2 separate regions of the Homo sapiens genome follow, and region 2 is linked to region 1. Evidence: fine-mapped QTL for protein levels in blood plasma. A gene starts in region 1. The other region holds a variant in brackets. All regions are shown on one strand. Distances are between the middles of the regions.

Region 1 (5,355 bases):
ATCCAAGTGCCTGCCTAGCTCAGAGAAGGCACAATATGAGGGGCCGGAAGACACAGCCTCTCCCAGCCAGTGCACCCCTGCCCACGCCCGCGTCCCAGGGGGACCATCAGCTGTGGCTGGCACAGGGTGAGGCAGGGGGCAGGACACGGTGAGCACGGACGACGTCCTGGGATGGGAGGAGGACTGTGCCATATGGGCCCTCCCCACCACCTTCCAATCCAATCTCTTCTGCTCCACTTCCCTGGGCCGGGTCCAAGGCTCTGGGCTTTCTGCACTTGGGGCCAGCTGCCGGCTCCTCCTCCCCGATGTGGTCCCCATGCAGGCCGCCGGGCACACACCCCGGGCGCACACACAGCATGGACCCAGAGCGCCAGGTAGCCACAGCCCTGGCCACACAGCATCGCAGATGACTCCTCACATAGACCTATCTCTGGCCTCAGTCTCCCCACCTGCAGGATGGGCTCACAGGCGCCATATCCAGAGGGGGTCGTAGGCAAGGACTGGCTGTCGGAGGGGCTTGGAGGGAGGCTGGTCCGTTAGTCAGGAGCTGAATAGGGAGTCCGTTGGGGCAGGAGGGCCCCCTGAGGGAAACCCCAGTGCCCTCCCTAGCAGCCTAGCCTCGCTCCTGCCTGCTCCTCCCTGGCACGCACAGGTCACTGGCACAGGGTGTGTCCCTGAACTTGGGCCTGGAGGGTACCTCAGAGGCTCTTCAGACCACCATTGAGACTTCTCGGGGCGAGGGGGTCCCTGGGTGGGGCGAGGGGGTCCCTGGGTGGGCCCAGAGCTCCTCCTGTTCCATGGTCTCCCCCAGAGGGGCTTGGGCCCACTGCAGGCTCAGCAGGGCCTGCTGGGGCCAACCTTGGGGCTTTCTCCAACCCAAAGGTGACGCATCTTCTCCCCGCCCAGTCTGGGCAGCTGCAGTAGAAAGTGGCAGAGCTGCCCGGACTTGCCCGTCCTCCTCCTGGGGCCCTCAACCCACGTCCCGGAAGTGGATCCTTCTCCCACGCTGCAGCCTCCCGCTTCGGGTGACTGGACACGGCTGGATGATCCAAAATAATTCTTTCTTGGCAGGCAGCCGGTGGGGGAGGGGGACTCACATTCCAAACCCTTGTTTTTCTCAGTAACTTCCCTCCTCTACTGGGGCAAGGAACCCCTGGCCAGACCTCAGGCCTCCCAGACCCCCCGGGACAGAGGTGGGCCCCCCATAGGTACCGTGGGAGGACTCAGATGTGCCAGGCCCACCTGCTTGCTTCTCAGTCGGCTCTGGGGATTTCTATGCAACATGCAAAAAGCTGACTCGCCACAAACCTATGCCTGCTGGCCCTGCCCTCCGGGAGACCCTCACCTCTGGACAGGAAAGGGAGGGCTCCTCCCACCAGCTGTTCAGCTGTTCCGTGCCAGGGTCATCTGGGCATGGGGCAGGCTGAGAGCCCCCACTTCCCGGCAGCCTCGCTCTCCCACCCGCAAAGGGCTCCTGAGGAAGCTCAACTTTAAAGCCTCACAGGCTGCGCCGAACCTCCAAGCAAGGGCCGAAGTCAGACATTAAGTGGGGAGGGCGGGGGGGTCCAGGGAAGGTGGGGCACAGGGAGCCCTCCAGGCCGCCGGGATCTGCCGGGTTTGGGGCCCACCCTCACCCTCACCCTCACCCTCACCCTCACCCTCACCCTCACCCTCACCCCCTGTCCTGACTCTGCCACAGCCCACAGTGGGCAGACGGACCCCTTTCTTCCTTTCCCAGGGAGCTTCGGGAAGAGAAATCAAGGGCCTGGCAGGAAGCCCCAGGGCGTCCGGGCTCTGAGACCCCCAGATGACAGGGGGAGGCGGGCTCCCCAGATCTGCCGAATAGCCCGACCAGGGGCGCTGGCAGGGCAGGGGCTTCCTGCAGGAGCAGGGTGCGGAGGGGCAGGGTCAGCAGGGGACAGGCAGGGCTCGCGCCCCCGCTTCTGAGACTTTCTGTGTCTCGGGGTGTCCACCCAGACGCCACTCTGGGAACCGCGAGGAGGCCCAGGCAGTGGGGTCTCGCCAGGTGCGGGTGCTCTCCGCCCTGGTCCCCCCGCGCCAAGCAGGCCCCAGGGGGTGCGGGGACGGCCCCCGGGAGCTCGGGCAAATCCAGGCTCCTGTGCCGCTGAGCCTGGGGCCGGCCCGGAGCGCCCGCACCGCGAGACCATCTCCGCTCGGCGCACGGAGCTCGGCGGCTGAAGAGTGAGAGGCAGGCGCGGAGGAGGGATCCGACGCGGCTCCGGAGGGACGCGCAGCCCCCGCCGCCGGGCCCGTCCCCCGAGTCAACACCGGGAAGGGAGTGGGGCGGCAGCGGCCCGGGCCTCGCCGGATGGACCGACGGACGGGGCCCAGGCCCCGGGAGCCCTCCGCGGAGCCGCAGCCGCCGCAGGTCCCCGGGCCCCAGCGCGGCAGGCCCGGGCGGAGCGGCGCTGACGGCGAAGCCCCCCCCACGCCCAGCGAGACGTCCCCCGCAGCCCAGTCCCCCGAGCTCGGTACCTGCACGTCCGCCGCCAAGGCTCGATGGCGCCCGGGCCGCGCTCGGCGCTGCGCTCTGGCCCGCGCTGCTGCCATGGAGACGGGGCCTTTGTGTGGCCGAGGAGGGGCCGGAGCGCGCGGGAGCTGCCGGCCCCGCCCCCGACGAGGGAGAGGAGGGGAGGGCGGGGAGAACAGGAGAAGGGGGGAGAGGGAGAGGGAAAGCGGAGGGGGAGAAGGAGGGGGAGGGGGAGGGGGGAGAGGGGGAGGGGGGAGAGGGGGAGGGGGAAGAGGGGGAGGGGGAGAGGGGGAGGGGGAAGAGGGGGAGGGGGAGGGGAGGGGGAGCAGGAGCGGGGAGGAGAGGGCAGAAGAGAACCGGAGAGGAGGGGAGGGGACGGGAGGGGAGGGGCTGGGCCTGCGCTCCCCGCGCCCCCCACTTCTCCCCTGCCCAGCGGCCACAGCATTGTCTGGTAGGTTCAGGCACCCCAGTTCAGACCCAGGTTCAGCCAGGGCAGCACCCTGCCCACCATGCCGCCGTCCAGGAAGCACGAGCGCCCACAGAGGCCCCATGGCCTGAGCACCCCCACAGGAACCCCGCAGGTCTGAGGGGAGGCCATGGCTTGGTACCAGGGGAGGGCATTATGAGTGCACTCTCGCCTGGCCAGAGGAACGTGAGGGTCCCTGCCAGTCTTGAGATGTGTGGGCACCAGACTCTCACTCCCAGACTGGAAGCATACCAGTCGCTCCCCTGCGGCCTTCAGGGGTGGGGGCTGCTGGGCTTTGGCCCTTTCCCAGGGGTCTCAGGCCCTCAACCTCCCAGGGTAAACTGGGACCTGGAGATGGCCTCCCAGCACATCCCTGGCCTCCAGCAGCACCTTGGGATGCTGCACCCGGGACCCCACCTGGTCCTTCAGGGCCAGGAGGTGGGCGGGCCGAGACCTCTTTCTGGGGGTTCTGGTTTCTGGGACAGAGCTGGCCCCACTTCTGGCATCCCAGGTCCCAAGTCCTGGCCTCAGTGCTCCTAGTGTCCCCTGGGCTTGAGAAGAGGTGGTGAACCGTCTGCAGGGCCAGACCTTGGAGCACGCCTCCACTGCCCTCCCGGAACTGGATGTGCTGAGCAGGAGACAGAAGCATTCCCCAAGCTCTTGCCCCCACCCTGGGTCACCCCTCCCTGGGGCCCGCCTTCCACCCAGACCTGCCCCGTCCTTGCAGCTGGTCAGCTTCCTCCTGTCCCCAGCCAGGCATCCCCTCCTCCTCTGCTTCCCCCACCCGGGATCCGCCCCGCCACATCCTGACAAACTCCCCCAGCCTGACTTAGTTCTTTCAGTCTCTGCCTTCTCCCACCCTCAAGCAGCCAGGCCTTGTTCCTGTCCAAAATCTTCCCTTGGGCCTTGAACCACAATCCACATCACGGCAACCCTACCCTTCACTGCAGAGGACCCCAAAATTACCAGGTTCTGACAAGGTTGCCAACTTTTTATCAAAAAAGGAAAAGACAAGGTCCAGTCACAAAAGGACATTTTAATACCAAAACTGTGGGAAGGCCACTGTTCTAGACTAAAAGGGAGTCTTTAAATAGCCAGCAGGAAGCTTGAGGGTGAGCAGCTGTCCTTCCTGTCCCTGAGCAGGCCCCCTGTGTGCACCCTCAGCCCCGAGCCCCACTCCAGACCTGCTCCCAGCCCTTCCCACCCTCTAGGTTCTGTGGTCCCTGTCCTTCGGGAGGCCTGTGACCACAGCAGTCCTCACCCTCGCCAACTAAGTTCTGCCCAGCAAGCCCTCTTGCCTGCGGGGGCTGGCACTCTGGCCAGGGGTAGAGCTGTCTGGACCTTCCTGCCTCTTCACTGACTGCCCCTGGCCTGGAGTGCGTGGGGCGGGGAGGGCCATGGCCTAGCCCTGGACAGAGGCTCAGCCAACTCAGAGCGGCCCTGACACTGGGGGGGCCACAAGAGGCATCCGGACAGATGGAGCTGGCAGGTCTCCACGCCCAGCCCCCACCCATCCACCCCAGGCCACATTCCACCCCAGGCCTCTTCTGCACAGGTGGGGACAGGCCCTGAGGAAGAGGGGCTGGGACACTACCCCCCACCTTAGCCTTAGCTTCTGCCCAGGGCAATGCTGGCCACCCAGCCCGGTTCCCCCCTCAAGTTCCCCCTTCACACGCCACTATGTGGCCTCACCAGAGCCCTCCAGGGAAATCTGCTTGTGCATTTCTGGATACACAGTGGCCAGGGTCCCTGGGGGCTCCTCAGAGACCAGCCTGAAGCCCCTCCCCTGCAGCCATGTGGGTCTGCAGCCCTCTGTGCTGTGCGGCAGCCCTCAGAAAGCCAAGTGAGGCGAGACTGTGCTGTGGGGAAGCACATGCTGCCACGGTCCTTGGGGTGCGCTCCCCAAAGTGGGGTCACAGTTGTGAGAGAGGTGGGTTGTCTTCCCAAGCTGCCCCGACACCTTGAAGTGGTGGTCCTCAGGGGGCTGGTCACCAGCATAAGGCTTTTGCAGAGGGCCCTGGTGGAGGGCAGCTGATGGCAGGGCCTGTACTGGCCCCCCAGGCCCCATCTTATGGAGGTCAGCATTCAAGCTGCCCACACAAGAGGTGCCAGCATCTCTGCAGACCCTCTAGAGACCAAGCCCTCAGTGGGGAGGCTGGTCCCCCTGTGCTACAGTCAGGAGGCCCAAGCTGCATTTGGGGCCAGGACCTTTCTCACCCTCGGGTCCCCGGCTTGTCCCTGCCACAGAACAGGTTTGCCACCTCGGCCTCTATGTGTTCTGTTTCATGTGGTCACATCCTTGGACCCTGCACCAGACATCTGGGGCTTAACAGCTCCCCTTGGTCACCCTCCCGGCTGCCTCCGCGTCTTGTCTGTAGAATGGGAACAGGGACAGGCT
Region 2 (5,355 bases), 23 kb before region 1:
GTTGTGTGTGGTGTCTCGTTTCTGCCGCCGCTTGGGCGGGGGCTGCACCTCCGGGGGCTCACAGTACAGGTCGGTCTCCGTCAGCGTCTTCATGGTGCAGCGCTCGGCACCCACGAAGGCCTCGGCCTCCTGCAGCGTCATCGCCTTGTTCAGATTGGTGCCCTGGGGAGGCGGCAGTGGTCGGGGTGAGGAGGAGGGAACCAGGGACAGGTGGACCAGCTCTCAGCCCAGACCCGAGCAGGACCCAGACACCCGGGGCTGCACCGTCCTCACCCGGGCGTGGATGAGCTTGTTGACCTGCTTCTTGACGCCACCTGTGAAGTTCTCAAAGGTGGGGTCAGGCACGTACTCGAAGGCCCCGGCCTCTGTTCTGAGCAGGGCACGGTGCCCGTCCATCTCGATCAGCACCGTGAGGTTGTAGGCCTCTGGCTCCTCAGGCACAGCCGGGGACAGGAAGACGACCTTGGTGTCATTGTGGAACACGTAGTCTGTACCCACCACCTGCAGGCAAGTCCCAGCTGTCAGCCCCCGGGCGCAGACCCCGCCCTTCCTGGGCACGATCCCATGGGCCGGTGCCAGAGCTGAGCCCACGCCAGGACTGACCGTCATGGGCTGCAGGGATTCAGCCTCCCGCGGCGGCTGCCAGGACTGCAGGGGCTCCGCGATGACCACCATGGCAAACCTCTGGATCAGGCTGAAGCCCTGACCCGTGACGTTGATGCTGCGGCCACCACTGCGGAGGGCAGTGCCTTCGTGGGCTCGGCTGGCAGGGGTGGTCCCTGCAGCCTCCGCCCTCCCGTCCCCGCCCACCCTGGCCCTGACCACACGGGGCTTCCAGGTGCATGTGTGGGTCTCGGTGGGCAAAGGGGCAACGCGGTGGGACGTGCTGAGCACGAGACTGTGCCGCAAGTGGGCGGGGGGCACACGGGGCCTGGTGAGCGTGGAGCCTCTGGTGTGCCCATCTGGGTTTCTAGGAGGAAGTGGATCTGGAGTGCAGTGGGGTTTTCCGGAGGCCGCCTCCCGCTGCACAGACCAGCCCCACCACATTCCTTTCAGCACAGTCAGCCAAGGGCACTGAGGAGGCAGCTGGGTGTGGGGAGCAGAGGGGGGCGGGGGGACACCAGCCTCACCTGGCAAAGCTTCGTAGCGGCTCGAAGGCTCGCAGTACGGGGTTTTCGCGGTAGGTGAAGAAGATGCCGGGGTTGGGCACGGGGGACCCCCCGTAGGAGACCTCCAGAAGCATCTGGCCCCGTGTCGCCTGGGGGCCAGTGACACACTGGAGCTGCGCCCCAAACTTCGTCCTGGGGGAGGGAGGGTGCTGGTCTGCATCAACCCCTCCCCCGGGACCAGCCCCAGCCCGACCAGGCTGGCCCCGCCATCCCCTCAGGGCCACTCAGGTCTCAGTAAGTGCCCCCCTCCATACCCAGGGCCAGGGCCAACCAGACTCAGCAGCTGGCGGTGACACCCACACTTTACACGGGACGCCGTTGAGGGTCACCCGCACGTCCTCCTGGGAGCCCGTGTCCAGGTGGGTGCCGTGGATGGTCAGTGTGGTGCCGCCCGCCTGCGGTCCCTGCTGCGGCTCCACACTGAGAGGCTTGGGCTGCTGAAAGAGCCGCAGGGGCACTCGGGTGAGGACGGGGCACAGGACGCCCTCGGTCCTGGGCTGGATGGTAACTGTCGTGGGGAGGCGGCGGGCAGAGCCCCTCCTCCCGGTCCTCCCGGGTTCGGCAGGTCCCCGAGGCCGGGTGCTTACTTGGAAGGTGAACTGGACATTGGGAGGCGAACGGCCCAGTTTCCCGAAGACGTCCACCTCGACACCCCCCGTGAAAGGCGTCTCCGCAGCCTCGATCACACACACGATCCTGGCGGGCGACAGGCAGTGTGGCCCAGGCACTCCCCGACCCACCCCACACCCTGACACCCTCACCCCCTCAGCCTCCCCACCCACCCAGTCACCCGGAACCCCAGCGTGGGTACTGACCCAGCTGACAGGGCCCAGACCAGGGCCGTCCACTCACCGGGTGGACACGGAGTAACGTTCCGGCTGAAAGGAGCAGTTCCGGCCGGCCACAGAGATCCTCTGGATGTCCCCTGCTTGGACGCCCAAATTGGACCCCAGGATGGTGATGCGGATGCCCCCACCCAGGGGGCCCGTCTCAGGCTGGATCTGAAACCACAGAGCCGGGTGAGCAGGGAGGGGCTCATGCCAGGGACGAGGGAAGGTGTAGGCCAGGCTTCGAGGGGCTCACCCTGGTGATGACGGGCGGCGGGCACTCGGAGGTGGTGTTGCACAGGGCCTCATACACGCACCTGCTCTGGCCCCCGCACCACGCACACCTGTAGTCGGGGTTAGCGGCCCGGCACAGGCTGCAGTCGCTGCGGCCAAAGGAGCAGT[T/C]GTAGAGGGTCACTGCGGGGAGAGCTGCCGTCAGTGGTCACCCCGTGCCTGCCCGCCCCCGACCTGCTCCCCACTGCGCCCACCTGTCCCCCCACCCACCGCCTTGTGCCCACCCGTCCCCTGCCCGCCCCCCACTGCGCCCGTGGCCCCCACCATGGAGCTTGCTGTCGATATTCTTGCCGTAAGACTTGACGTAGAGGTGCAGGGGCAGCGTCTCGTTGGCATCGTGGGACAGCTGGGGGACACGCAGGGGCACACTGCACTTCCTGCCCCCACAGAGGGGCGTGGGGCGGGGGTCACAAGGGCAGCCTCCCTGTGGCCACCGGGTCCCTTCCCAGCCAAGGGCAGCAGGGGAGGCCTTCAGGTGTCGGAAGTTCGGGAACCCCATGGACGCTGCTCTGTGCCACTCTGTCCCCAGGGAGGCAGAGGGCAGAGGGGGCTTCCCCAGCAGCACAGGGCATGGCGAGCCCCTGGCTGGGCTCTGGTCCCTGGGGTCTCCCTGCTGCCCCTCCCCTCACAGTCCTGAAGGTGACCCCCCACCCCACCCGGGGCCCTGGGGTCCAGCAGCCGAGCCGGCCTGCCCTGGAGCCGTACCTTTGGGGTCCGAAAGGCGAAGGTCCCAGATTCCTGCATGGTCACCGGCTCCATGAACTTGAGCAAGTCACTGCCCACGTGCAGGGAGGAACCCTGCAGACCATGCCGTCAGGACCCTGGACAGGCGGCTGTGGCACCCTGGCCCTCCTCCCAGAACCCCTGCAGCCCCTCCTCTGTGCCTACAGTGTGGGAGCCCTCTCCTCACCCCACACATGCCCGCCCCTCAGATTACCATGCCAGCTGACCCCTCGGCCACTCCTGAGCCCAAACACCTGTGTCTGCAGAAGCCTCTGAACGTCCTCTGTGGGTTTCCCACGGCCACCTCCACCACTCATCCACACCTGAGAACATCGCCCGGCCCACCTGACATCGTGGCCCCCACAGCTCCCTCCTCAGGAGGTGGCACTGGCCCCTCAATCTCCACACGCCTGCCTCCTCCACTGCCTCTCTTCAGGCCCATCCAAAGGCCCCCGAGTGCTGCCTCCTGGCCTCTGTCCCCGATAAATCCTGTGCCCTCTACCTCATGTGGGGGCCCCGAGTCGGGGGGCACGGGTGGAGCTCAGGCTTCCCACACACCCATCAGCACTGGCCGGCACCCCTCCCTCCGTACCTTAGCCTGCCTGTCACCAACCGGCACCCCCTCCCTCCGCACCTGAGCCTGCCTGTCACCGGCCGGCACCCCTCCCTCCGCACCTGAGCCTGCCTGTCACCAACCGGCACCCCCTCCCTCCGCACCTGAGCCTGCCTGTCACCGGCCGGCACCCCTCCCTCCGCACCTGAGCCTGCCTGTCACCGGCCGGCACCCCTCCCTCCGCACCTGAGCCTGCCTGTCACCGGCCGGCACCCCCTCCCTCCGCACCTGAGCCTGCCTGTCACCAACCGGCACCCCCTCCCTCCGTACCTGAGCCTGCCTGTCACCGGCCGGCACCCCTCCCTCCGCACCTGAGCCTGCCTGTCACCGGCCGGCACCCCTCCCTCCGCACCTGAGCCTGCCTGTCACAGCCGGCACCCCTCCCTCCGCACCTGAGCCTGCCTGTCACCGGCCGGCACCCCTCCCTCCGCACCTGAGCCTGCCTGTCACAGCCGGCACCCCTCCCTCCGCACCTGAGCCTGCCTGTCACCGGCCGGCACCCCTCCCTCCGTACCTGAGCCTGCCTGTCACCGGCCGGCACCCCTCCCTCCGCACCTGAGCCTGCCTGTCACCAGCCGGCACCCCTCCCTCCGCACCTTCACGGTGTCCAGGTTCTTGCCCTGGAAGTTCACATCTGTCTCGTGGTTCATGGGGATCACCAGGGGGCTGGGTCCCAGGAACTGGGGACAGCTGTCCTCCTGGGAGAGTAAGGCTGGTCAGGTGCTGCCTGGGCACAGCGGAGCAGCCATGCCCTGAACAGTCCCCTGAGGCCCCGAGGCCCCTCACCATGTGGGCACGGACGATGCCGTCCTCAGGGTTGGGCGAAGCCTCCCGGCACTCGTGGTAGCGCAGGTCCCACTGGCAGGTCCAGCGGTTGCTCACGCAGGAGATGCACCTGCATCCAGAGGGGATCGTGAGCAGGGCTGGGGTGGACGGGCAGGGTGGGGTCGATGGGCACAAGACACTCACGGCAGGTTCTCCTCCAGGCTCATGGCCTGGCGGCAGTCGTAGAAGGGGTACTGGTAGGACGTGAGGAAGATGTTGCCTCGTCTAAGGAGGAGCTGGATGGTCACGGCCACGTGGTCTGCAGACAGCAGAGGGGGAGGTGTCAAGGTGGCGGCCGCAGGGCCGAGGGCCAGGCTGGGCCTCCCCTGGGGCTGACTCCTGGGGCCAAGGTGGAGACCCCTGGTCTTCAGGGGGCCCTGCCAGGACGCCCCGCATTCATGTTGGGCGGGGCCTGCCACCTGCTATCAGATCTCGGGTGGGGCTGCCAGGACGCCCGTTCACGCTGGGCTGGACCTGCCACCTGCTATCAGATCTTGGTTCGGGTGTCGGGCGCAGCACCGGGCTTGCCTTTCTCCCCCGGGTCCAGGTTGCTTTCATACCCTCTGTTCCCGCAGGCACTGAGGGCAGCGGCTCCTTGGAGTCTGAGTGGGACCTGCCAGGTCCCTGCCCACGTCACTGCGTGGCCCCACTGCCCCCAAAACTCAGGGGACATGGGCGCGACGCCTGCCCTGGCCCACATGCGAGGCCCTGCAGCCTCTGGGAACGGCCCTGCTCTCTGAAGCTGGACATGGCAGGAAGGGGTGAGGGGCGTCTGCCGAGACGACGGGGCCTGGCGCCTGGCACCCACATGCCGCTCCGGACGTGATGAGGGAGCAGGCTGAAGACAAGTCACCTTTGCTACAGGCCTGGGGGGCGTGGCTGCGGACAGCCCAAGAAGCCAGAACCT

Evidence for each region. PIP is the chance, under the fine-mapping model, that this variant and not a neighbour inherited with it causes the effect. The UK Biobank Pharma Proteomics Project read protein levels with antibody pairs (Olink). The fine-mapping took linkage between variants from a reference panel, not from the people measured, so its PIPs are less certain.
Region 2: its variant is fine-mapped to the plasma level of the PLXNB2 protein (UK Biobank, PIP above 0.99). The variant lies in the coding sequence of PLXNB2. If it changes the protein, the assay may bind it differently, which can mimic a change of level.

Annotation. Positions count from the first base shown.
Region 1 is chr22:50,305,057-50,310,411 of GRCh38, forward strand. It overlaps PLXNB2 (plexin B2), which reads right to left and starts at 2,590. Exons shown (of 37, transcript NM_012401.4): 1 at 2,497-2,590. It overlaps DENND6B (DENN domain containing 6B), which reads right to left. Exons shown (of 20, transcript NM_001001794.4): 20 at 3,974-5,355. RefSeq lists enhancers at 244-1,443, 833-1,202 and silencers at 1,751-1,901, 2,422-2,491, 2,502-2,701, 2,862-2,911, 3,612-3,661.
Region 2 is chr22:50,281,581-50,286,935 of GRCh38, forward strand. PLXNB2 (plexin B2) reads right to left here. Exons shown (of 37, transcript NM_012401.4): 9 at 4,593-4,707; 10 at 4,410-4,518; 11 at 4,220-4,321; 12 at 2,993-3,085; 13 at 2,552-2,633; 14 at 2,253-2,410; 15 at 2,022-2,170; 16 at 1,757-1,865; 17 at 1,470-1,606; 18 at 1,131-1,301; 19 at 604-733; 20 at 274-501; 21 at 1-162. Among named protein-coding and RNA genes, the nearest start is that of MAPK11, 14 kb to the left of the region's middle. RefSeq lists an enhancer at 537-1,736. The variant T/C (reference allele first, on the strand shown) is at 2,399.